Linked DNA regions of Homo sapiens. The protein of the gene in region 4 purifies or fractionates together with the protein of the main gene of each other region. This does not show direct contact. Each region holds a gene or a part of one and is shown on either strand. Other genes may lie near its edges. The genes, in order: DEFA5, KCTD9, TMEM169 and CCDC102A.

Region 1 (5,624 bases), on a different chromosome or scaffold from region 4:
TTAAACACATCTAATACCTTAAAGAATAGATAAACATATTCCTGAAAGACAATCACAAACTTATTCATTCATTATACCAAAAATGATACAGAAGGGCCCATATCATGGATTTGACATCTTTTCTCATTTGTTTTGAGTTTACTCCTTCCTATGATTTTTGTGATCTTCCGAGACCCCAAATGACTAAACGAGGTTGCAAGTCTAGGGCCAAATAGCTGACCCTTGATCAGGAAACAGTGCTTTGCATGTGTCTAAGATGAATCAAACCCAGACTACTTGTTATTTATTATCAGGCTGAGACTTTTTGTTGTTGTTGTAATAAAAATGTTTGGTTTTTTTTGTCATGTCATGACACTGTTCAATCCCTGTCTTTTATATAAATTTTAATTCTAGAAACTTGTTTTTCTCACAAATACGTCGTTCTTAAGTTTTTGCATAGCCCTAAGTGTATGGCCAATTTTCTTATCATTATGATGTATTGACTTGGTTCATTGGCATAATTAAAAACATATTAACATATATTTTCTCACTAGCATTTTATTAAAATGAGTATAGCTTTATTATAATAAATAGAGTTCATATGCTTGAAGGGATGGAGAGTTGAGACCAACTCCTTCATTAAACATTGGTCTAATTAACCTTTTGGGGACCAGTGAGGGACCATTTGTCTCATTGGTTATTGGGCCTCGTCCTCTATGGTCACCAGCTTCTGAGCTCCTCTTCTATCTGGTTATTAATTGAGATCACTGATGCTTGTCAGTCTTTCTTGTTTTGGGCACAGTTTTAACTTTTTCCTTAGTAAACTTTATTTTATTCTATCTTGTTGATACAGTTATATATCACCAAAACAGAGTGAAATAAAGCTTAATGTAAAGTGTATATATTTAACACATCTGCTTAAAATTTCAAAAATTATGTATAGCAATGCTTTCCCACTTTTTAAAATTAAAGGACAAGTAAACATAGCCCATTAGATCTATCTTTCCTTTGAGCCAACAACCACTTTTTGCCTCTCATTGTAAACTTCTACTTTTTGAGTATCATTAGGAATGCATTGAATTTTTAAGTTTCAAACTATTCCAATTAACACTTATATCCTGTCAGGAATGGTGGCTCAAGCATGTAATCCTAGCACTTTGGGGGGCTGAGGAGAGCAGATCACTTAAGCTCAGGGGTTCGAGACCAACCTGGGCAATATGGTGAAACCCTGTCTCTACAAAAAAATACAAACCATTAGTAGGGTGTGGTGGCACATGCCTGTAGTCCCAGCTACTCAAGAGGCTGAGGTGGGAGGATCATTTGAGCACAGGAGGTCAAGGCTGCAGTGAGCCGAGATTGCACCGCTGTACTCCAGCTTGGGTGGCTAAGTTAGACACTGTCTCAAACAACAACAATAAAAAACCCAATTATATTCATTTTTGTTATTTTGTTATTGCTCTATGATGCTCAAATTGTGCATCATTGGAATGCAAAGACCAGTTAACTTAATGTAGATCAGAATTCTCAATACAAAGGAACCATACAAACCACCATATAACAAAGCAAAAGAAAAAAAAGGAAAAAGAAAAGAAAATTAAAAAGGTCAAACACACTAAGTTTAATGCTTGAACTTTATTTTGGAGAGAGAAATTTAGAAAGACACAAGGTACACAGAGTAAAATGTTTTTCTTTTTTCAGGACCTTGAACTGAATCTTGCACTGCTTTGGTTTCTATCTAGGAAGCTCAGCGACAGCAGAGTCTGTAGAGGCGGCCACTGATTTCACACACCCCGGAGAGGGACTCACGGGTAGCACAACGGCCGGTTCGGCAATAGCAGGTGGCTCTTGCCTGAGAACCTGTGGAAAGAAGAGAGGGTCAGGCACAGCGAGGGAGGTGGGAAAAAGGACAAGCACAGCCAGACTAACTGAGATAGTCTAAATAAGAGACACTGTATCAGTCATGTTAGGATGGAGAAAATTCATGTCTTTGTCGTAAGTGACAAGAAATCTTACTAGCTATGTGTTAGTCATGCAAGATCATAGTTTTTTTCCCCATGTGAGTCTATCCAGGATGTATTTATTACCTGCTCCCTGGTCCAACAATATACCTCTCAACCTCAGGGTTACCTACTCTTCATTCTGCTTCATCCACACGCCTAATCTTGACCTCCATGTGTGATTTCCAGGTCCTAACAAGGCTCCCTAAAGCACCTGAATCAGTTTCTGAAATGCCGCATTGTGCATGCTAATGTCATGGACCAAATACTTTGGTGCTCAAGGAGTCTTTGAAGACTTTCCAAATTCAAATTCTTCATTCTCTGTCTCTCCTTTTTTTTTTTTTTTTTTTTTTTTTAACATTTTACATATTTACTTGTTTTAATTGACAAACAATAATTGTGTATATGTATGAGACACAATATGATGTTTTGATCTAAGGATGTATTGTAGAAAGATTTAATCAAGCCTATTAGCCTACATCAAAACACACCTATAGGTTCCTCTCTAGGTTCTAAAAGCTTTTCCAATGGACAAAGTAAAACACTCTCTATATAACTAAGTCTGCCCATTTAGATCTACAAAGAACTAGTCAGTGTAGCTCTTTCTATCTTAAAAGTAGCAAATTTCACAGAAATATCTTGGAACTGAAAGTCTTAGAAAAAAGAAAATCTTTTAGATTTATTTGGTTCTCACTGATTAATTTATAGATGAGAAAATCAAGGTCCAGGAAGATTAAGTAAAGTCACTCAAGTGAGGTAGACCTTTCCACACTTGACTCCAGATCCTTTCTCCAATCCTTTTTTTCTAGATTTTGCAGATGTGCAAGATTGATGTCTCCTACCTGAGGTTCTAAGAGCAGAGAGTCCATTTCCTGCAAAGGAGATAGCAAGGTCCTGGTTGTCTTCCCCAGACTGCTTCTGGGTTGTAGCCTCATCAGCTCTTTCCTGGAGTGACTCAGCCTGGGCCTGCAGGGCCACCAGGAGAATGGCAGCAAGGATGGCGATGGTCCTCATGGCTGGGGTCACCTGCAGGAGGGAGAGCAGGAGTGGATATGTGGGGAGTGAGGAGTCAGCCTGGATTTATAGCTCTGCTGGGAGAAGACCTGAGACAGAAGCTGCAGTGAGAGGAGGTGGGCATGTGATTGGGAGGGGAAGGACTGCCTTTGTTCTCAAGATCCCTTTGATGCTCCTCTTTCTCCCAGCTTTCATCAAAGCGTGAGTCTGTATGCTTAATGCCTCTTCTTGATCCAAGGTGTTAATGATGATAAGGGTATTACTATCCTGTTCTGTTTCCCATCTGCTTGAGTATTTACTTTTATATATTCAAAAAAGAAAAACAACAGCGCTTTCATTCAAGAAGTTTGGGGATCAAATGCCTCTTGTTTTCTGAAGATGGTCCCTGGTACTCTCTGGATGACTCTCTGGGGGCAGACCTGGGACTCAGTGGAGTAGAGAGTTAATTCATTGCAGGATTCAGGGATATTACTAACCTCATGTAGGAGGCTTTTGAGATCTCGAGGTGAGTAGTCTCCCGCTGGTGCCAGTATGGAGAGGTCAATGACCTTATCAGGCTATAGGGGAAATGAGTTCAGTAAAATAGTAGGCCAAGTTTATCAGATTAAAATAAAAATTCGGATTTAGTTCAAGGAGTTGGTGTGATCTGAATGCATCACATAAAATGTGTAGCGGGTACTTCTCTCCACTTTGGGGAATATCAAAGTAATTTAGGTGCGTACAGCCCCTTTCTGAGATTTTTTTTTTAGTTTTAGAAAATTGTAAATCATGCACAAGGAACAACATTCAAAAGGTAGAAGTCATGAGCTCTCATTTCTACCCCCAGGCCTTCAGTTCTGACCCAGCAAACCATCACTATTAACAGTTACACATAGTATTCTGCACTTCGCTTTTTTCACCTGTAACATTGGCACTTTGTATATCAAAATACATGGAATGCTATTATAATTTTAATAGCCTTATACTATCCCAGGGTTTGTATATGCCATCACTTATTTTTTGTACTGATAAAATATTATAAAATTATTACAATTTGGTTATTTTTAAACTTTTGCAGTAATAAGTAAAGTTACAGTGATTATCTTGTATATATGTTCTCTTACCTATATGGATAAACTTATAGAAATAGAATTGCTGTGTCAAAGAATGCATCTTAAGCCAGCATGGTGGTACATGCCTATATTTCTAGCTATTTGAGAGGCTGAGGTGGGAGGATCACTGGAGACCAGGAGTTCGATACCAGCCTAAAAACATAGTGAGACCCCTTTCTCTTAAAAAAAAAAAAAGAGACTATATCTTACACATTTTTAAGATATTACTACATATTTCCATAATATCACCATATTTGATCCAAATCCTTTGGGGCTCAGTGGGCCCTTGGAGAGTCTCTATATTTGAATTCCTCATTTAATTTTTTTCAAATTTATTTATTTATTCATTGAAAAATAATTTTCTGTATATTTGTAGGGTATGATGTGACGTTTGGATTGATATCCACATGGGAGAAACACATAAGCTAATTAAGATAGCCATCACCTCACCAACTTAATTTTTTAAGGAGAATTACAAATTGATTCCTTTAGCAGTTTGAAAGATACAATACATCACTATTAACTGTGGTCACCGTGCAGTGCCATAGATCACTAAGACTCTCCAGCATAACTGAAACTTTGTACTCTTGGCTCAACATCTTCTCTTTTCCTATCTCACCCACCTGCAGCTTCTGATGACCACCTTTGTACTCTAGTTCCATAAAACTGACATTTTAACATTCCATGTGTAAGTGATATCATATAGTATTTGTCTTCCTGTGTCTGGTTTATTTCGTTTAGCACATTGTCCTTTGGTTCCATCCATGTTGTCATGAATGAAGAATTTCCTTCTTTTTTTTTTTTTTTTTTTTTTTTGAGACGGAGTCTTGCTGTCGCCCAGGCTGGAGTGCAGTGGTGCGATCCCGGCTCACTGCAACCTCCGCCTCCCAGGTTCACGCCTTTCTCCTGCCTCAGCCTCCTGAGTAGCTGGGAGTACAGTCGCCCGCCACCATGCTCGGCTAATTTTTTTGTATTTTTAGTAGAGACGGTGTTTTACTGTGTTAGCGAGGATGATCTCGATTTCCTGACCTCGTGATCCGCCCGCCTGGGCCACCCAAAGTGCTGGGATTACAGGAGTGAGCCACCGCGCCCTGCCAATTTCCTTCTTTTTTAAGGCTATATGGTATACCATCTTGCATGTATACCATATTTTCTTTATTCATTCATCCACTGATGAACATTTAGGCTAATTCCATATCTTGCTTATTTTGAATAATGCTGAAATGGACATGGGAGTGCAGATTCTTCTTTGATACAGTGATTTCAATTTCTTGGGAGATATACCCAGAAGTGGGATTGCTGGGTCATATGGTAATTCTATGTTCAGTGCTTTGAGGAACCGCCATACTATTTTCCAAAATGGCTGCACTAATTTACATTTCCACCAATGGCCTACAAGGGTCCCCTTTTTTTTATATCCTCACCAACACGTATTATTTGTCTACTTGTTAAAAGCCATTCTAACAGATGATTACCTCTTTATGATTTTAATTTGCATTTCCCTGATAATTAGTGATGTCGAGTGTGTTTTTCATATATCTGT
Region 2 (6,021 bases), on a different chromosome or scaffold from region 4:
TTACAACGTAAAAATCCAAACTGGAGAGTACTAGATAAAAAGAAGCAAAGCCATGATCTTCACTGCTCAGCTGATGAACATATTCTAAGACGTTGGCAGTGTTTTCTCTCCCTTCAGTTGATTAAAAAAATTTATAATTATTCTTATTTGACAAAAGAGCTGCATAATACATAACAGCTTGCATTTTTATATATAAAGTGACTAATTGGATTGGCATGATCATGACATGAATGTTCATTAAGAATAAGCTGGGAAAAGTGCTACTCAAATAGAATAGAATTTGATTTCCCATCCACCAGTTGGAATATCTGTACCACTTACTTTATCTCCCTTACCTCGCTTCTGCTTTTGTTTCCTGGTTATAAGAATAATCTCTGTTTTTTCAAGTAAGTTTCCCTCTCATAGCTTGTTTAGTAGTTACCAGACTGTGAGACTATGAAGCCTGGGGAAGGGCGTGGAGAGGCACAGAATTCTTCCAAGGTGCTGTGTTATATGCTCGCCAGGAATTGTCTGTGTATTGAATGAATGTAACTAGTGGTGGACGTATTTGACGTTGGAGAGAGGGCTATGCATTCTCTAAACTGTGGTTTCTGGAGTGAGATGACACACCACAGACAGTGTCCAAGACGATTTATTGGAGGTCAGGAAGAAATATACCTTTTGTTTATATCTTACACTTAAAAATATAAAATAATGTGAAAACTTGATTTTTCCGATCTAGAAAGACACAGGTGCCTCCAGTCACTGAACATTCAGCTGGTCTCAGGTCTCCTGTAAGAAGGGACGGCCTTCACATGTGAAAAGGTTAATAGTGTCTTCTTCACAGATTGGTTGTCATTGACATTGTGATATGGAAGCTTACAACCGGCACATTAAGATTTATATCTAGTTTTAACCAAATTAACCCTCACCAAAATGCCAAGTGATCTTAAAGGATTACTTCAAAGAAACTGCAGCTTGAGACAATATTAATTATGCAAGCACAAGTAAACAATGAGGAAATGGCAGAAGCTGCCACTTCTCCTAGTATGTATAAACCATGAGACTAAAAAAAGAGTGGGTCTCTTTGGACCTGAGAAGTTGAAACAGTGCTGAGTTTTAAAGAAGAATATTTGAAGTCCTATTTATTAATTGCTATTAATAATCAGCCTCTCCCTAAGTGTATGTTATTCTTTGAAATATTAGCCATTGATAGGATGAGTCATCCTAGTTAGCAAGATATTTAGAAATAAGTTCTAGTGCATGAAGACAAATGGCTTCAGATTTTTTTCTTTTCTGATTTTTTGGTTTTTGTTTGTTTTTTACTTTTATTTATTTATTTATTATTTATTATTATTATTTTTTGAGACGGAGTTTTGCTCTTCCACCCAGGCTGGAGTGAAGTGGCGTGATCTCAGCTCACTGCAACCTCTGCCCCCCAGGTTCAAGCGATTCTCCTAACTCAGCCTCTTGCTTAGCTGGGATTACAGGGGCTTGCCACCATGCCCTGCTAATTTTTGTATTTTTAGTAGAGACGGTTTTCACCATGTTGGCCAGGCTGATCCTGAACTCTTGACCTCATGTGATCCACCTGCCTTGGCTTCCCAAAGTGCTAGGATTACAGGCGTGAGCCACCATGCCCGGCTTATTTTAATGTTTAAAGTCAATCCTGTATTTGGCAGAATTTCACTAAATTTAATGATAAATATTTAGGAGATTCTTAGTGGCTAATTCATAGTCTGAGTCACTGAAAGTCCTCATCATTTGGGAAAACATGTACTTTCTAACAGTGGAATGTAGTTCATAAATACATAAATATACAGATGTTTGAGTACATGCCCAAAAGTATGTTACCAATGGGGTGTGTGGTCAGAAACATTTGAAGGCCTTAGTTCTAATCACTGGAATCTTTGGTTTAAATTTTGAGGGTTTTTTTTGTTTTTGTTTTTTAAAACTGCTCCGAAAGAGTCAGTTATGTTGTTTGTACCTGTCATCCTTTTTCCATGTGCCTCAACATTTTCGTTATTCTTTTTAATATTCCCTGTAAGAGTTGGCATTAAGGAAATTGAAATGGGGACTTGCACATCTGCATGCAGTGTGTGGCTTCTGAGCAACTTAATGTCAGTGCAGAGTTTCTATACGTCTTGAACACAGAGTGCTTTTTTTACTTCAGAATATTCAATAATGAGCTGTGCAAGTCCTAGGCCTTTTGTATACTGATTAATTCATCATTCATTCATTCATTCATTCAGTGAACACTTAGTAAATGCCTTCTGAGTATGTGGCATCATGCCAAACATGGCAAACAGGGTAGGAAATACTTTCATTCTGTACCGTGTTTTCATTCTTGGTCCAAGAAATAACTTTTCTTCAGGTTTTGGTATTAGGTCAGAAACATGTTGGGGGCAGGCACAATGGCTCATGCCTGTAATCCCAGCACTTTGAGAGGCTGAGATGGGAGGATTGCTTGAGTTCAGGAGTTCAAGACCAGCCTGGGCAACATAGTGAGATCCCATCTCTAAAACAACAACAACAACAAAGAATGAAAAAGAAATATGTTGTTAGTAGTAAGTATCCAGGTTTGAATCCATTACGTTGTTAGAGTTGGAGAAAGGTGAAAATTTATCTGAACCTCTGCCTCTGAAGGCTAAACATTAATAAGAACCTAGTGAGGGCCCACTTTTTAAGCTTGAACATTTCTTAATATATTTGATACATAGAAAAGAATACAATAAAGAATATACATAAAAAGAGGAACATAATATAGCAAACATCTGTAAATCTGCCAGATAACCCAAGAAGTAGCATGTTATCAATAACATAATGTGTTTATCCACGTTCCTGTACTCCTGTTTTGTTTTTCTCTTTGCCGTGTGTTTTTAAATAGTTTTGTCACATATATATGCATAACTAAATTACCTTTTTTTTTTTTTTTTGAGTCGGAGTCTCACTCTGTCGCCCAGGTTGGAGTGCAGTGGCATGATCTCTGGCTCAATACAACCTCCGCCTCCCGGGTTCAAGCAATTCTCCTGCCTCAGCCTCCCAAGTAGGTGGGATTACAGGCGCCCGCCACCATACCTGGCTATTTTTGTGTTTTTAGTAGAGACAGGGTTTCACCATATTGGCCAGGCTGGTCTCAAACTCCTGACTTCGTGATCCGCCAGCCTCAGCCTCCCAAAGTGCTGGAATTACAGGCTTGAGCCACCGTGCCCGGCCCTCACCTTTTTTTTTTTGAGACAGAGTCTCGCACTGTCACCCAGGCTAGAGTGCAGTGGCGCGATCTTGGCTCACTGCAACCTCTGCCTCCTGGGTTCAAGCGATTCTCCTGCCTCAGCCTCCTGAGTAGCTGGAATTACAGGCACGTGCCACCACTCCCAGCTAATTTTTGTATTTTTAGTAGAGATGGGGTTTCACCATGTTGGTCAGGCTGGTCTCGGCTGACCTCCTGATCTGCCCGCCTCAGCCGCCCAAAGTACTGGGATTACAGGCGTGAGCCACTCTGCCTAGCCACTAAGTTACATTTTTAAAAAATCAGCTTCGGGACATACGGTATCTCAAATTGATATTATACTGTATATAGTTTTTTGTGGAGACAATGTCTTCCTATATTGCCCAGACTGGTCTCAAACTCCTGGCCTCAAGCAGTCCTCCTTCCTCAGTCTCCCAAGGTGCTGCGACTACAGGCATGAGCCATCATGCCAGGCCAGTCCTTGCTTTTTTCGTTCAATATAATTCTCTTCCAACCATAATATCTGACATAGTGATAATTTATTCATTTTTACTGCTTTATTAAAGTACATGTTATACAAATACTACCATGATATTCCTGTCAGTGGACATTAGGTTGTTTATTTTCTTTATATTTTGTTGTTAAATTGACAGTGCTGTCATGAATATTTCTGTATATGTATCCTGGCACACAGCAGCAAGCATTTTTCTAGGGAGGTAGTTAATCAAACTTTAGCATGCATCAGAGTCACTTGGAGGAGGAGGAGGACTTGAGAAAACTGCTGGACTTCATCCCCAAAGATTAATATTCAGTAGGTCTGGGGTGGGGTAGGAATGTACATTTTTAATTTGCAGGTGAAATGTGGTTCAGATGCTGCAGGTGACAGGATCACACATTTGAGAACCACCACTCTAAGGTATAGACACATAGTTGTAATTATTGGGTGTTAGAATATGTAAATATTCAGTTTTGCAAAATAATGCCAGATTGTTTTTCAAAGTCATTGCAGTAATTTATATTCCCACCACCATTGCATAAATCTTCCCTATTGGTCCACATCCACTCCAACACTTGATATTACCAGTATTTTCCATTTTAAAATTTTCTTTTTTCACCTTAGAGTTAATTATCTCATCTTTTTTTTAAATTATCTCATCTTTTAAAGAATAAGATCATGTAAATATTTAAAATGTATTTGACTAAAAGTATAGGTAGAGAAAATTGAGTTCTGTATTTAGTTACTAGTGGTGATTAGTGGTTTTGTTGGGTAAATCAGCCTGCATAAATTCAACAATTTATGTGTATTGTATATTACATAATGCACAATAAATACTTGTGTATTTATCATAACAACTTTTTGCAAATTAATTTTTTTATTGGACCTTTAGGATCCAGGCAGACAGCCAGATTAGAAAATATTTAGTGATATGGTAAATTGTTTTTGATACTTTATTAGGATTGATTAAAGTGGCAATAAAAGTTGAATTCAAATACACAAATACTTGTGTATTTATTGTGTATTATGTAATAAATCTTGTGGGTATAAAAGAAAAAAATATTTTACATGCATGTGCAGGTTTTAATTTTTAAATTTAAATAATACAGGTTACAATTTGAAAATGGTGTTTAAAGGTAAATTAAAACTAGCCAATCGTACTAGGCATGGTGTTCCATTTACTCTCCAACTCATAGGCAGCTTTCACTTGTCATGGGATCTGAAATTTAAAAATAATTGACTCTGAAAAGTAGTATAATACAGACATCATGAACTTTAATAGACATGCTTCTCAATAAATGTAAAATGCTTCTATTCTTAGGGCCTAAGTTGTTAAGGTAGATAATCCCAGTGACATGGAAACATCAGGCCACATGGTGGAGATAACACATACAAAGTAAATGACCTTTGTAAGCACTATCATTTTATGATTTATTTGGCTCAGTATGAGGACAAAAACAATCTTAGTATATACTAACTGGAGCTTATGTCCATGATATACAAGATTTTTATTGCTCCTCTTTCTCAAAAGAGTTATATAAAGAAGAATGCATGTGCCAGTCTGTTTGCAACTTTCTCCGTAACTTAATCATCTTTTCCATATGTATGACAAATTTATGTTGATATATATATTTTAAAACCTGGTTTCTAATTAGTTTAAAATACAGAGTTTTTGCATATTTGAATATTAGTATTGCAACATAACTCCTTTTTATTTGTATGGTATTGTTAGTATGTGCGAATGATTAGTTGGAAAACAAACGTCAAGAATAGCCCTCCAAGTGAAAACAAGTATATTGGCCCAACTTAAGGGAAATTTTCAAATTTCTAGAACTATAAGATTCTTCGTATTAATTTTAATTCTGTTTTCTCTAATTGACCACCCTTTGGTTATTTCACTTAAAGGAAATTGTTAACTGCCTGATTGCAAACTGCTAAAATAATTTTATTTATAGAACTAGTATCTGGAGCTATGGAGACCTTAAAATAAATTAAAACTTCCCCCCTTATTACAAAAGTAATATAGGTTCATTGTAACAAATTTGGAAAACAAACAAAATAAAGCAAAAAACTTAGCAGGGTGTGGTGGCTCATGCCTGTAATCCCAGCACTTGGGAGGCTGAGGCGGTTGGATCACGAGGTCAAGAGATTGACACCCTCCTGGCCAACATGGTGAAACCCCGTCTCTACTAAAAATACAAAAATTAGCTGGGCGTGGTGGCACGGTTTTACCATGTTGGCCAGGCTGGTCTTGAACTCCTGACCTCAGGTGATCCACCCACCTTGGCCTCCCAAAAAGTGCCGGCATTACAGGCTT
Region 3 (6,021 bases), on a different chromosome or scaffold from region 4:
GCCAGGAGTTCGAGACCAACCTGGACAACATGGTGAAACCCAGTCTCTACTAAAAATACAAAAACTAGCCCGGCATGGTGGCACATGCCTGTAGTCCCAGCTACTCAGGAGGCTGAGGCAGGAAAGTCACTTGAACCCAGAAGGTGGAAGTTGCAGTGAGGCGACATCATGCCACTGCACTCCAGCCTGGGTGACAGAACAAGACTCTGTCTCAAAATAAATAAATAAAAGGTGGTAATATTGCAAGAAGAAATGTATCACCAAGAAGAAATAGGACAGTGAGCATATGCCTGTCTGTTCTGGAAGATGCCCTTTTGGTTTCCTTCCCATGGCTTTAAACAAGTGGGCTAGAGAGACTTACCATCATCCACAGGATAGTCTAGGAAATCATCTCCCTCCTCCTCTTTAGGCTGATCTCCACCTTCTGATTCTCCGGGCTCCTCATCTGTTTTCTCATTGTCTGAGCGGTAGATGATGATGGATTCTGGGCGTGACTCTTTCCTCTTCTTTTTCCTGTGCCCCATTGTGGATTCCCCATCCAGCGCCAGGGCAGCAGCCACAGCCTTCCTGAGAGAGCCCTGGTGGGGGCTTGGAAGCTGGACCTGGCCTTCTACTGCTGTTGGCTCTTCCATTCCAGACCTGACGTCTACCTATGTCTTATAAAGAGTTGGACTTGTTTGAGTAAACTCACAGTTCACACATCACAGAACTTCTTCCTAGATGGGGCTATGCAAAGATGTCCCAAGGATGCATTCCACCTGAAAGATAGGAAAGCAAAGCCATCAACAGGAAGCAAATGGGGTGAGATGGACAGGAATGTGGGAAACGATCCTCAACTTAGCAGAAGCCTTCCTCTCCCTTTACTTCTTGCAATACTTTATTTTGGGAATGCAATCTAAATCTCTTATAATAGACAGTGAATAAACTTTTGCTACAGTAATATTTTTGTCATTTATACAAACATATAATATTTGGCAAAACCCATGTGAAGGAATACTATATCTCATTGTTGTCATAATTTGCATTTTCCTTATTCATATGAAAGTCAACAATTATTGTTTCTTTATTTTATATACATAAGTAGTTAGCATAGTCTGCTTGTGTTACCGATTTTTGTGTATAAATCAGCCTCTAGTTGGAGCATGCAGAGTATAAGGAAGTTGGGTGAGGAAGCCTTACCAGTAGGTGAGAGTTAAGAACCACAGGTAGGCTGGGCACAGTGGTTCACGCATATAATCCCAGCACTTTGAGAGGCCGAGGCGGGTGGATCACCTGAGGTCAGGAGTTTGAGACCAGCCTGGCCAACATGGCAAAACCCCATCTCTACTAAAAATACAAAAATTAGCTGGTTGTAGTGGTGGGTGCCTGTAATCCCAGCTACTTAGGAGGCTGAGGCAGGAAAATTGCTTGAGCCTGGTGAGCTGAGATTGTACCACTGCACTCCAGCCTGGGTGACGGAGCGAGACTCTGTCAAAAAAAAAAAAAAGAAAGAAAAAAGAACCATAGGTGGCTGGGACCAGTATTCCAGACTTCTGGCTATTGAATCATACATTAAAACTATACTCAAATGGATAAATACAACATTAAGCAAGCCACTCAAATGGTACAACCTCACCAACTGTGTCTACCTTGCTATTCTGTAAAGGAAATCTGTCTCCTGGCTTCTTGTCAGCCCACAATCTCAAAAAGTTACTGGGATGTGTCCTATCACGTGCTGCAAGAGCGGTGGAGAGGCTTCACTTTCCCCCTTAAAATAACAGTGTCTCTCCACTTTCTGTTCTGGACAGTGCAGGTCTGTATATCTGTCCTTCATTTTTTTTTCCTGGTAACTTATTTGTTAAAGAAAGCGGGTCATTTATCTTGCAGATTCTCATAGCCTGGGTTTTGCTGATTGCATCCCCACAGTGTGTTCCTCTGAACTCTGTGTTATGAGTTGATAGCTAAATAGAAAGTCTTGATCAATTTCACATTGAAATTTTTTTGGTTGATGGTTTGTTTTGTTTGGCAGGACAATTTTAGAGGTGGTGTTTGTACTTCCATTAGAAGTCCCCTAATGTCTGGTTGACTCTTTTTGTGAAGTTAACAGCCCGTTAATGGCCATTGACTATACCCATTAAATCATGGGGGTTACAAAATGATATTCCATTTCTCTGACTTCTTCATTTATTAGCTAGAATACTCTCATGCACTTTTAACATACCCAGTTTTAATCCTAGTGAAAGAGGCAAATGGTCCTGCTGTTATGCAATATTATTGGCATTTATACTGTGAAAAATAACTTATGAACTATAGTGGTACCCGCTATGGATATAAAAAGTTTCCAAGCGATTTACCAAAAAATTCCCCACTTTTCAAATAACTGTGCATATTATTCAGAATCGCAAGCTTCTACTCACAACCCTGCCGCCCCACACTCCTCGAGGCTGTACACTCTTCAGCAACTCCAGGTTACTGGCTGTTACTTTTGTTCCCAACTCCCAAATCCCTCACTGTATTTCAGTGCTCTCTGAGCCTTATTTTACTGCCACATGTACACCATTTGCCATCCCTTTATTTCCAATAATAAAGCTTCTTCTCTCATGTGTATTCAAATGTTCCCAATGTCTAGTGTTCTGGCCCAGTGGATGGGAGTGGGGCAGTGGAGAGAAGAAAGAAGCAAAAATTCCACTAGGCTCTAGAATTCCACTAGGCTCCATTCATTTTGAAGCAAATTTATATATCTTTGGTAATTACCATGTGACAGGAAGTACTGTATAGCATATCTCTTAAAATGCCAGAATACATATTTTTTTTTCTCATTTCAATGTTTCTAAAATTTAGGTAAATTTTAAGCTCAATGGAATGGCTTTTTCTCCCCCTCCAGGCAGGGGAGTTCTCCTCTGCTGCCCTCTCACCCAGTATTTCCTCTAGCCTCTGTTGATTTTCTTTGTCTTTCCATTGGATTGGCAGATGTTGGATCTAAATTAACTTTATAACTGGGCACTTAACCCAATGCCTGGAATAAATCAGGCACCCAGCGACACAATTGAGAATCTTAGTGGTAGGATCCACAGGATGAAATGGGCAGGTTTCACTACGTCCTCACTGCCTGACTTTGTCTAGGGGGTGTACTAGGGGCAGAATGAAAGCCATTATCTTTAAATTCTTATCCATGGAGCTTTCTGGACCAGGAGATTCATTTGGCTGAGGTGTCTAAAAGTACAAGGATGTACACAGGAAGAAGCAGGGGAGAGAGCCCTCCCAAGGTAAATAGCTCCAGAGGACAATTAATCCAACCATTAGAATGCTGAGCAGGCCTTGGGCATTGATGAGCTTGACCAGGGCTCTTCTACCAAAGTGGCTTCTACACAGAGGACAGTGGACCTCTACCCAGAGGAAACTGAATGGGGAGGCTGAATGCAATCCACCCCCAGGTGAAGATTTTATATGTATACACACACACACACACACACACACACACACACACACACTTCATTATTACGTTAAGTTCCAGGATATACATATATATGTATATCTATATATGTACTTATACATATGTATATTTATATACAAATGTGTATATACATACATTTGTAATTCTACTCTCTAAGTGTCTATGTTTAATACAAAAATGTTTTCCCTGGTCCAAGTCCTCTTATACACTGACACTCAGAAAGCTGCATCATGGTAATTCTATGGTAGGAATGACCTCTGAACAAACCACTTTGTACTTACTTGAAGGTGCAATGATCACAGCTTGGGAGGCCACCCTAATCCACCGTGTTTTCCTACTTAGATCATCTGTTTCTCTCTGTTGTTTTCTGAGGCAGCTTGTGAAGGGCCTTCTTTGGCCCTTCTATACAGCATGAATTTTCAAACTAGGGGTTGAGACCCCGAGGAGATTAAAGGACCAGAGCTTCAGAGCTGGGAGAAGGTTTATGTTCTGTACTCCTTACTCCTTCTTTAAAGATGTACCAAGATGTTCAGAAGGGAGACAGAAATGTTAAAGAGTACACGTGAGAAGGCAAGTTGCAAATCTCATACTTCTTGTTCCCTTTTCCTCTCTCTTTGTTGAGGGGGTGGTGCTCTAGGAAGATGTGGCAGGGCAAAGTGAACACATGCATGGAGATGATGACCCTTATTAATGGGCCTTATAAACATTAAAAAGTGGCCAAGTGCGGTGGCTCATGCCTGTAATCCCAGCACTTTGGGAGATCAAGGCGGGCGAATCACTCAAAAAAAGAATTAATTTAATTAAAAAAAAACATAAAAAGGTGTAGTGTTCGACACTCTTGATTTGGTTGGGCACAATGGGAGAGGCCAATGTTAGATAACAGGAAGAGCTTCCTGAGCCCAGGGACAGACTAGTACAGAAAATAGTAGCTAAGAGAAGCTTTGGAGTCTCTTGGGGATATAAAAGATAAACATGGTCATCTTGTTGGCTGATGGAGGAGAGGGACAATCCTATCAGAGGCAAAAAGAGAGATGACTTTTGAACATCCCATTAAAACCTTAGACAAGAAATATGAAATGTAAAGGGTGAGCTCCTGGCTATTCACCTTAGGGGGGCTATTTTTGCTTCAGGCACAGCTCATTTTAGAAAGGTGCCCAGCCAATGTCTACTTACAGTAGTCACAGGACAGAGACACTGTCCTTGATTTACCTTGAAACATGATTTCCTCATCTCCCTACAATTAGAACACTATCCTTTGAGACTACAAAACATTCCCACAAACTTAGGAAAAGATGGGTTATTTTGTAGTCATGGTAAGTAGACAATAGAACCAGTTTTAAACCTGTTCAATTGATCAACAACAATCTCCCTCAGTGTCTTAGTGCATTTGGGCTGCCATAAGAAAATACCATAGACTAGGTAGCTTATAAACAACAAGAATTTATTTTGTACAGTTCTGGGAGCAAAAAATCCAAGATCAAGTTTAGGGGTTTGGTAGGACTCACTTTCTGGTTCATAGATGGTGCCTTCTCACTGTGTTTTCACGTGGCTGAAGGAGCTGACTAGCTCTCTGGGTCTCTCTCTTTTTTTTTTTTTTTTTTTTTTTGAGATGGAGTCTCACTCTGTCGCATAGGCTGGAGTGCAGTGGCGCAATCTTGGCTCACTGCAACCTCTGCCTCCCAAGTTCAAGCAATTCTCCTGCCTCAGCCTCCCAATTAGCTGGGACTACAGGCACACGCCACCATGCCCAGCTAATTTTTGTATTTTTAGTAGAGATGGGGTTTCGCCATATTGGCCAGGCTGCTCTCAAACTCATGATCCGCCCGCCTTGGCCTTCCAAAGTGCTGGGATTACAGGTGTGAGCCACTGAGCCTAGCCTCTGGGTCTCTTTTATGGGGGCACTAATCCCATTCCTGAGGACTCCACCGTCATGACATAAAGCCTCACCTAATGCCATCACTTTGGGGGCTGAAATTTCAACATATGGATTTGGGGGGAAAACAAACCATACCATAACACTCAGCAAACATGTTTTTGGAAATTAACCCATCCAGTCAGTCCTTTGTTTCTGAAAGTCAATCAGGTGAGTGGCTCTGTCCCTGTTTGGCTGACTTTCACACTAGTGTGAGTTGACTTTTGGCCAATCAGGGTCTGGCACTCTGATGATGGCTTTCAAAAATGTATTCACTTAGGCAGTTGTTGATTGAACATGTTTAAAACTAGTTCTGGTGGCTACTTGTTATCAAGGCTACTGTAAAAACAGTGTTTTCCTAAATTTGGGGATCCTTTTTACTGTTAGTTTCCTGCAAGTCTGGAATATATCAGATGTCACAGTACAAGAATATGAATTATCTGTTGTGATGTAACAAATTACCCAAGAAGTAAAGGTTTAAAACAATAAAAAAGTTATTATCTCACACAATTATGTGCGTCAATAAACTGGGAGTGCCTTAGCTGGGTGGTGAGTAGTCTTCTCTACCTGCTTCCTGCCTATAGAATTTGGAGGTCCAAAAGTGTTTTTTTGTTTTTATGGTTTCTGAACCTTTTAGTATTCTGTGAATAGAATTTTCTCAACATTTCTGTGGGAT
Region 4 (6,021 bases):
GATGTGAGGGCGCTTCTGGCCTCTGTGTGGGAGAGAGGCCTGCCTCTTGCAGATCAGGACACCATTGGATGTGGCTGGCCCCGCTCAGAGCACAGTCCTGGCCCCTGCCCTGTTCCCAGTGACCTGCTGATGGAGCAGGGCCCCAGGACCCCTAAACCCAGGTCCTCCTGGGTCCCATCCATGGCCTCACCTCGCCCCTCAGCTCGGCCATTTTCCGGTCCATGCTGGAGCGTGCACCGAGCTCATCTTCCAGGTCCTCAGACATGCGGCCCAGCTCGTCCTGGTGCGCCTCCTTCAGGATGCTGAGCTGCAGGGATAAGGCCCCACCTGGTCATGAGAACCACCAGGATATAGCCTGGAACCACCTCCGGGGGTGGGCGCCAGTGCAGGAGTGCTCAGCGTGGAGCCAAGGCAGCGCCCAAATGGGGCAGGCACCAGGTATTCCAAACAGACCTCGAATCTGACCACTTCTGCTCCTCCCAATGTCTCTCCTCCTCATTACTGTCTAGCCTCCCAGTGTCTACTCCTGGCCCTTCTCTGTCAACCCGTTTTCTACAACAGCAGCCCAGAGGGAGCTTTTAACAAAGATGAATGCAATCATACCACCCTCCTCCCACAAAGCCTCTGATGGCTCCCAGGTGCCTTAGGGTAAAGTCCAACTCCTCTCTACGCTCTCACAAAGCCCTGCACGATTGGACACCTACCCGCCGCTCCCCCTTAGTTCACTGTACTCCAGGCACCAGGGACTCCTTTCTGTTCCTCAGACACACCAAGTTCCTGCCCACCACAGGGCCTTTGCACATGCGTGGATCTTTCTGAGACACTTCTTAGGACTGATTTTTCTTATTCTCAGGCCTTGACCTAAAGGCCCCCTCCTTAGGAATGCCTCTTCTGCCCACCTGGCCTGGAGGAGGGGCCTCCTCATCCCACTCCCCACTGGAAAGCTAGCCTGGGAGGACGGGGAGCTTGTGCGTCTGTCCACCTTTGTGTCGTTGTATGGCCTGGGCACAGGGCCGCCCTCAGTGTACAGTGACTAATTCCAACACTGCTCTGCACACAGGTGCATCGGCATTGCTTGGCGTGCATTTAAGACAATAACATTTCTTGCGGTATACAGCAAACCCCAACAAACTGCTGCTCCCTGTAACACACGGATGAGTTTTCAACACATAATGTTGAGGGAGAGACACCAGATACAAAAGAGAACCTTTATAATTTTCTACTAAATTGTACATTTGTGTTTCATTCGCTTTTCTTCGAATGATTATACTTCATAATTTGAAAAGACTAAAAGAACAGGGTCCTGGACCCAGCCCTGAAAGGTGCTGATTCAGGAGGGTGGAGGCGAGGTCTGGGAATCTGTATTTTAGGAGATTTCCTCAGAGATTCTCATGTAAGACCAGTCTTGGTCCCCTCCAGGACAGTTTCAGGCTCTAAAGTTCTGTGATCCTCCCAGCTGCTAGAAACCCACCGATCCAGTGTGGCGTTCCCTGGGTGGCTGCGCCCTCTGGTGGCCATTGAGGCCTGCACAGGAGGCCGTAGTGGCAGCTCAGCCTGCTCTGAGCCCCCACACTGCAGTGGTGGATTCCCTTCTCTGGAGCCTCAGTTTCCCTATCTGTAAGATGGGGACATGAGGACCCAGCTCCCTGGGCTGCCATGAGGCTTCAGTGACACCTAGTACAGATAGGAACCCAATGAATGCCACATCCAGCCTCCTCGTCTTCATCCTGGTCTACAAGGCCCCCTCCTGCGGCCTCGCCTCTCACTTCCTGCTCTCCAGCCACCTGGCCCTCCCTGTTTCCCGCACACGCTGGGCTTGTTCCTGCCTCAGGACCTTTGCACCGCTGTGCCTTCTGCCAGGAACACTCTCCCCTGTATCTTTTCAAGGACAGCTTCCTCTAGCCCCTTTAGGTCTTGCCTCAAATGCCACCTTCTTAGGCCTTCCCTGACCTACCACCCCATCTCTCTCATTCTGTTTTGACTCCTTCATAAATTATGAATCTGCCTGGTGACTGTCGGTCTCCCATGCCCACAGCCCCCACAAAGTGAGCTCCTGAAGGCAGGGACCTTGCCTGCCCAGCACTCAGAACAACTCAGAAAAAATAACATAACATAACATAACATAACATAACATAACATAACATAACATAACATAACATAAATAAAATAAAATAAATAAAATAAAATAAAATAAATAAAAATAAATAAAATTAAAATAAAATAAAGCCAGGCACTGTGGCTTACACCTGTAATCCCAGCACTTTGGAGGCCGAGGCAGAAGGATCACTTGGGTCCAGGAGTTCGAGACCAGTCTGGCCAACATGGTGAAACCCTGTCTCTACTAAAAATACAAAAATTAGCCGGGCGTGGTGGCGGGTGCCTGTAATCCCAGCTATTCGGGAAGCTGAGGCAGGAGAATCGCTTGAACCCGGGAGGTGGAGGTTGCAGTGAGCCAAGATCACACCACTGCACTCCAGCCTAGGTGACAGAGCAAGACTCTGTCTCAAAAAAAAAAAAAAAAGAACAACTGTTGGATGAATTAATGAATGAATTCTCTCTTCCATCTCCACTACTGAAATTCAACAGCGCGATCCTGCCGCCTCCAGGAAGACCCTCTGGTCTCCAAGACTCACCTGCTTGAGCATCTCCTGCTTGGTCTTGCTCAGCTCCTCATACTTGATCTTCCACTGGCTGAGCTCCCCCTCTAGCTTCTCAATGTTCCTGCTCAACGCCAGTTTATCCCTGGGGAAGGGACAGACATGGGGGTGAGCCCACCAAGGCCCTCTGCTTGGAGTCCTCACCAAGGGTGGCCCTGCTGTGTGCCCTCTGCACTTGTTGAGCCCAAGTCCAAAATCCTTGCCTTGGTATTCAGGCCCAGGCACCCTATGTGGCTAGAAGCACCCTGGCTTTGCAGTTCTCCTGGAACTGCATTCCCTATCCAAGTGCAAGTGCCCAGCTCACATTGTGGGGAGGTGGTCGGGGTTCCAGAGCACTGAGCATCCCCGGGCAAGTACCTCTCTCCTGCTGCACCTCAGGCTCATCTGAAAATGGCTCCAGGAGGTGGCGGCCCCAGCACTGGCCACTCCACTCCTTGGCCCACCTTGTTCTTCTCGAAGAGCTGTCAAAGACCACCCTGCTCCTGTCTGTTTTGTAGACTATGTTCCCTGCAAGGCTTGGTCTGAACACATGGTTCTGCAGATAGAAACACTGGAAAACACTGTCCAGTGACCCGAAGAGAGGGTTCTCTCTTGCCATCGACACTGTGTGGGATCCCTACATCCTCCCATAACCCCCACCCTGCCTTGATCTTGAATAAGGCACTGTAGGTAACAAGCATGATGCCTGGCCCTGGCAGAGTAGGTGCTCACCAATGGCTGAGCTCAGCATCACCTTCCAGCACGCTGCCCTTCATGACCCCACACCACACTGGCCTCTCTCTCTGAAAGTGGAACACTCCATGCCTCCAACATGGGGTTCCCAGAGGGGACAACGTCACCCTGTAGGAGGCATGTTGAAAACCCATGGCAACATTTTTGGCTATCACAATGATTAGGGGTCATTTAGTGGACGGGGGCCAGGGTGCCTGACTCCCTGCAATGCCCTGGGCGTCCTGCCCATCAGGATGCATCCTGCATCCTACTGAATGCATGCACAGCCCACTGGACATTGCTCGGGGTAGAGATGATCTGAGCCTACAGCCTCATTCTGATTTACATTGAAACAGAAAGTAATTTTTATACTAACATACACTGAATTTTCTAGGAATGGAATCACTGTATAAACTGAAGGAAGACTGCACTTTTCTTTGTTTTTAGAGAGAGGATCTGGCTCTGTTGCTCAGGCTGGAGTGCAGATCACAGCTCACTCCCTGGAACTGCACTCCCTACCCAAGTGCAAGTGCCCAGCTCATATTGTGGGGAGGTGGTCAGGGCTCCAGAGCACTGGGCATCTCTGGGCAAGTACCTCCCTCCTGCTGTACCCCAGGCTCATCTCTTAAAGACTACCCTGTTCCTGTCTGTTCACAGCTCACTGCAACCTGGAACTCCTGGACTCAAGCGATCCTGCCACCTCGAGCTCCCAAAGTACTGGGATTATAGGCATGAGCCACGGTGCCCGGCTGCACTTTGCTTTGTTCAGAACTTTACCAAAGGCTGTTCATCTCTCAAGAAAGCGCATCGCAGTGACACCACTTGTGTCTTTGAGTTGCTAAGTCTGCACACCTGCATGAGCCGCCTTTGTAGCTGTCCTGCGAGGTGACTTAAATGTGCAGATACATGTAAGCCTTCAACACAACACCTGACTCGGAGCACATGCTATGTCTTTGCTGTTATAACTATCGTCACTATCATCCCATTTAAAGACACCCACTCTGACCACTTCACCATTTCTTCTAGAGGAGCTATGCCCAAGCACTCCCATATCACAACACGTGTATTTTAAGTTACTTTCAGGCTGGGCGCAGTGGCTTACACCTGTAATCCTAGCGCTTTGGGAGGCCAAGGCAGGTGGGCTCCCTGAGCTCAGGAGTTCGAGAGCAGCCTGGGCAACATGGTGAAAACCTGTCTCTACTAAAATACGAAGAATTAGCTGGGCGTGGTGGTGTGTGCCTGTAGTCCTAGCTACTCGGGAGGCTGACACATGAGAATTGCTTGAACCAGGGAGACAAGAGATTGTAGTGAGCTGAGATAGAGCCGCTGTACCCCAGCCTGGGCAACAGAGCGAGACTCTGTCTCCAAAAAAAAAAAAAGTTACTTTCACTTCTACTTTATATTTCAGTTAGTGCACTAGGTTGATTTTTTTGCTTGTTTGGCTTAAACAGTCTAAATTTATTCTCTCATATTTCTAGAGGCTAGAAGTCCAAGATCAAGCTGTTGGCAGGACTGGTTCTCTGAGGGCTGCGAGAAAGAATCCGTTCCATGCCTCTCTCCCAGCTTCTGGCAGTTTGCTGGCCATCTTTGGTATTCCTTGGCCAAAGATGCAACAATGTCCGCAAAAGCATCACCCTGACCTCTGCCTACATCTTCACAAAGGCATTATAGTGATTTTTTTTTTTTTTTGAGACAGCGTCTCTCTCTGTCACCTAGGCTGGAGGGTACTGGTGCATTCATACAATCACAGCTCCCTCAGCCTCGACCTCCTGGGCTCAAGCGATCCTCCCGCCTCAGCCTTCCAAGTAGCTGGGACTACAGTGGCACAGCCCCGTTCCCAGCTAATTTTTTTTTTTTTGTAGGCCAGGCACAATGGCTCATGCCTGTAATCCCAGCACTATGGGAAGCTGAGGTTGGTGGATTACCTGAGGTCAGGAGTTCGAGACCAGCCTGGCCAACATGGTAAAACTCCGTCTCTATGAAAAATACAAAAATTAGCCGGGTCTGGTGGCTAATTTTTTAGCCACCCTCTGGGTTGTCCCCTCTGGGAACCCCATGTTGGAGGCGTGGAGTGTTCCACTCTCAGAGAGAGAGGCCAGTGTGGTGTGGGGTCATGAAGGGCAGCGTGCTGGAAGGTGATGCTGAGCTCAGCCATTGGTGAGCACCTACTCTGCCAGGGCCAGGCATCATGCTTGTAACCTACAGTGCCTTATTCAAGATCAAGGCAGGGTGGGGGTTATGGGAGGATGTAGGGATCCCACACAGTGACGATGGCAAGAGAGAACCCTCTCTTCGGGTCACTGGACAGTGTTTTCCAGTGTTTCTATCTGCAGAAACATGTGTTCAGACCAAGCCTTGCAGGGAACATAGTCTACAAAACAGACAGGAGCAGGGTGGTCTTTGACAGCCCTTCGAGAAGAACAAGGTGGGCCAAGGAGTGGAGTGGCCAGTGCTGGGGCCGCCACCTCCTGGAGCCATTTTCAGATGAGCCTGAGGTGCAGCAGGAGAGAGGTACTTGTCCGGGGATGCTCAGTGCTCTGGAACCCCGACCACCTCCCCACAATGTGAGCTGGGCACTTGCACTTGGATAGGGAATGCAGTTCCAGGAGAACTACAAAGAACATGCGCCAGAGGCATGGTGGCACATGCCTGT

What was found.
Region 1: the proteins of CCDC102A (region 4) and DEFA5 purify together in Homo sapiens (co-immunoprecipitation; one large-scale study listed by IntAct). This does not show direct contact.
Region 2: the proteins of CCDC102A (region 4) and KCTD9 purify together in Homo sapiens (co-immunoprecipitation; one large-scale study listed by IntAct). This does not show direct contact.
Region 3: the proteins of CCDC102A (region 4) and TMEM169 purify together in Homo sapiens (co-immunoprecipitation; one large-scale study listed by IntAct). This does not show direct contact.

What each region holds. Positions count from the first base shown.
Region 1 is NC_000008.11:7,053,708-7,059,331, forward strand, and holds DEFA5 (defensin alpha 5 preproprotein), read right to left. Parts: upstream 3,033-5,624; 5' UTR 2,991-3,032; coding exon 2,819-2,990; intron 1,837-2,818; coding exon 1,724-1,836; 3' UTR 1,597-1,723; downstream 1-1,596. UniProt on the Homo sapiens protein: Host-defense peptide that maintains sterility in the urogenital system.
Region 2 is NC_000008.11:25,450,548-25,456,568, reverse strand, and holds part of KCTD9 (BTB/POZ domain-containing protein KCTD9), read left to right. Parts: intron 1-2,993; exon of another isoform or gene 2,994-3,025; intron 3,026-6,021. UniProt on the Homo sapiens protein: Substrate-specific adapter of a BCR (BTB-CUL3-RBX1) E3 ubiquitin-protein ligase complex, which mediates the ubiquitination of target proteins, leading to their degradation by the proteasome.
Region 3 is NC_000002.12:216,090,575-216,096,595, reverse strand, and holds part of TMEM169 (transmembrane protein 169), read right to left. Parts: intron 759-6,021; 5' UTR 633-758; coding exon 362-632; intron 1-361.
Region 4 is NC_000016.10:57,518,435-57,524,455, forward strand, and holds part of CCDC102A (coiled-coil domain-containing protein 102A), read right to left. Parts: intron 2,743-6,021; coding exon 2,634-2,742; intron 308-2,633; coding exon 191-307; intron 1-190.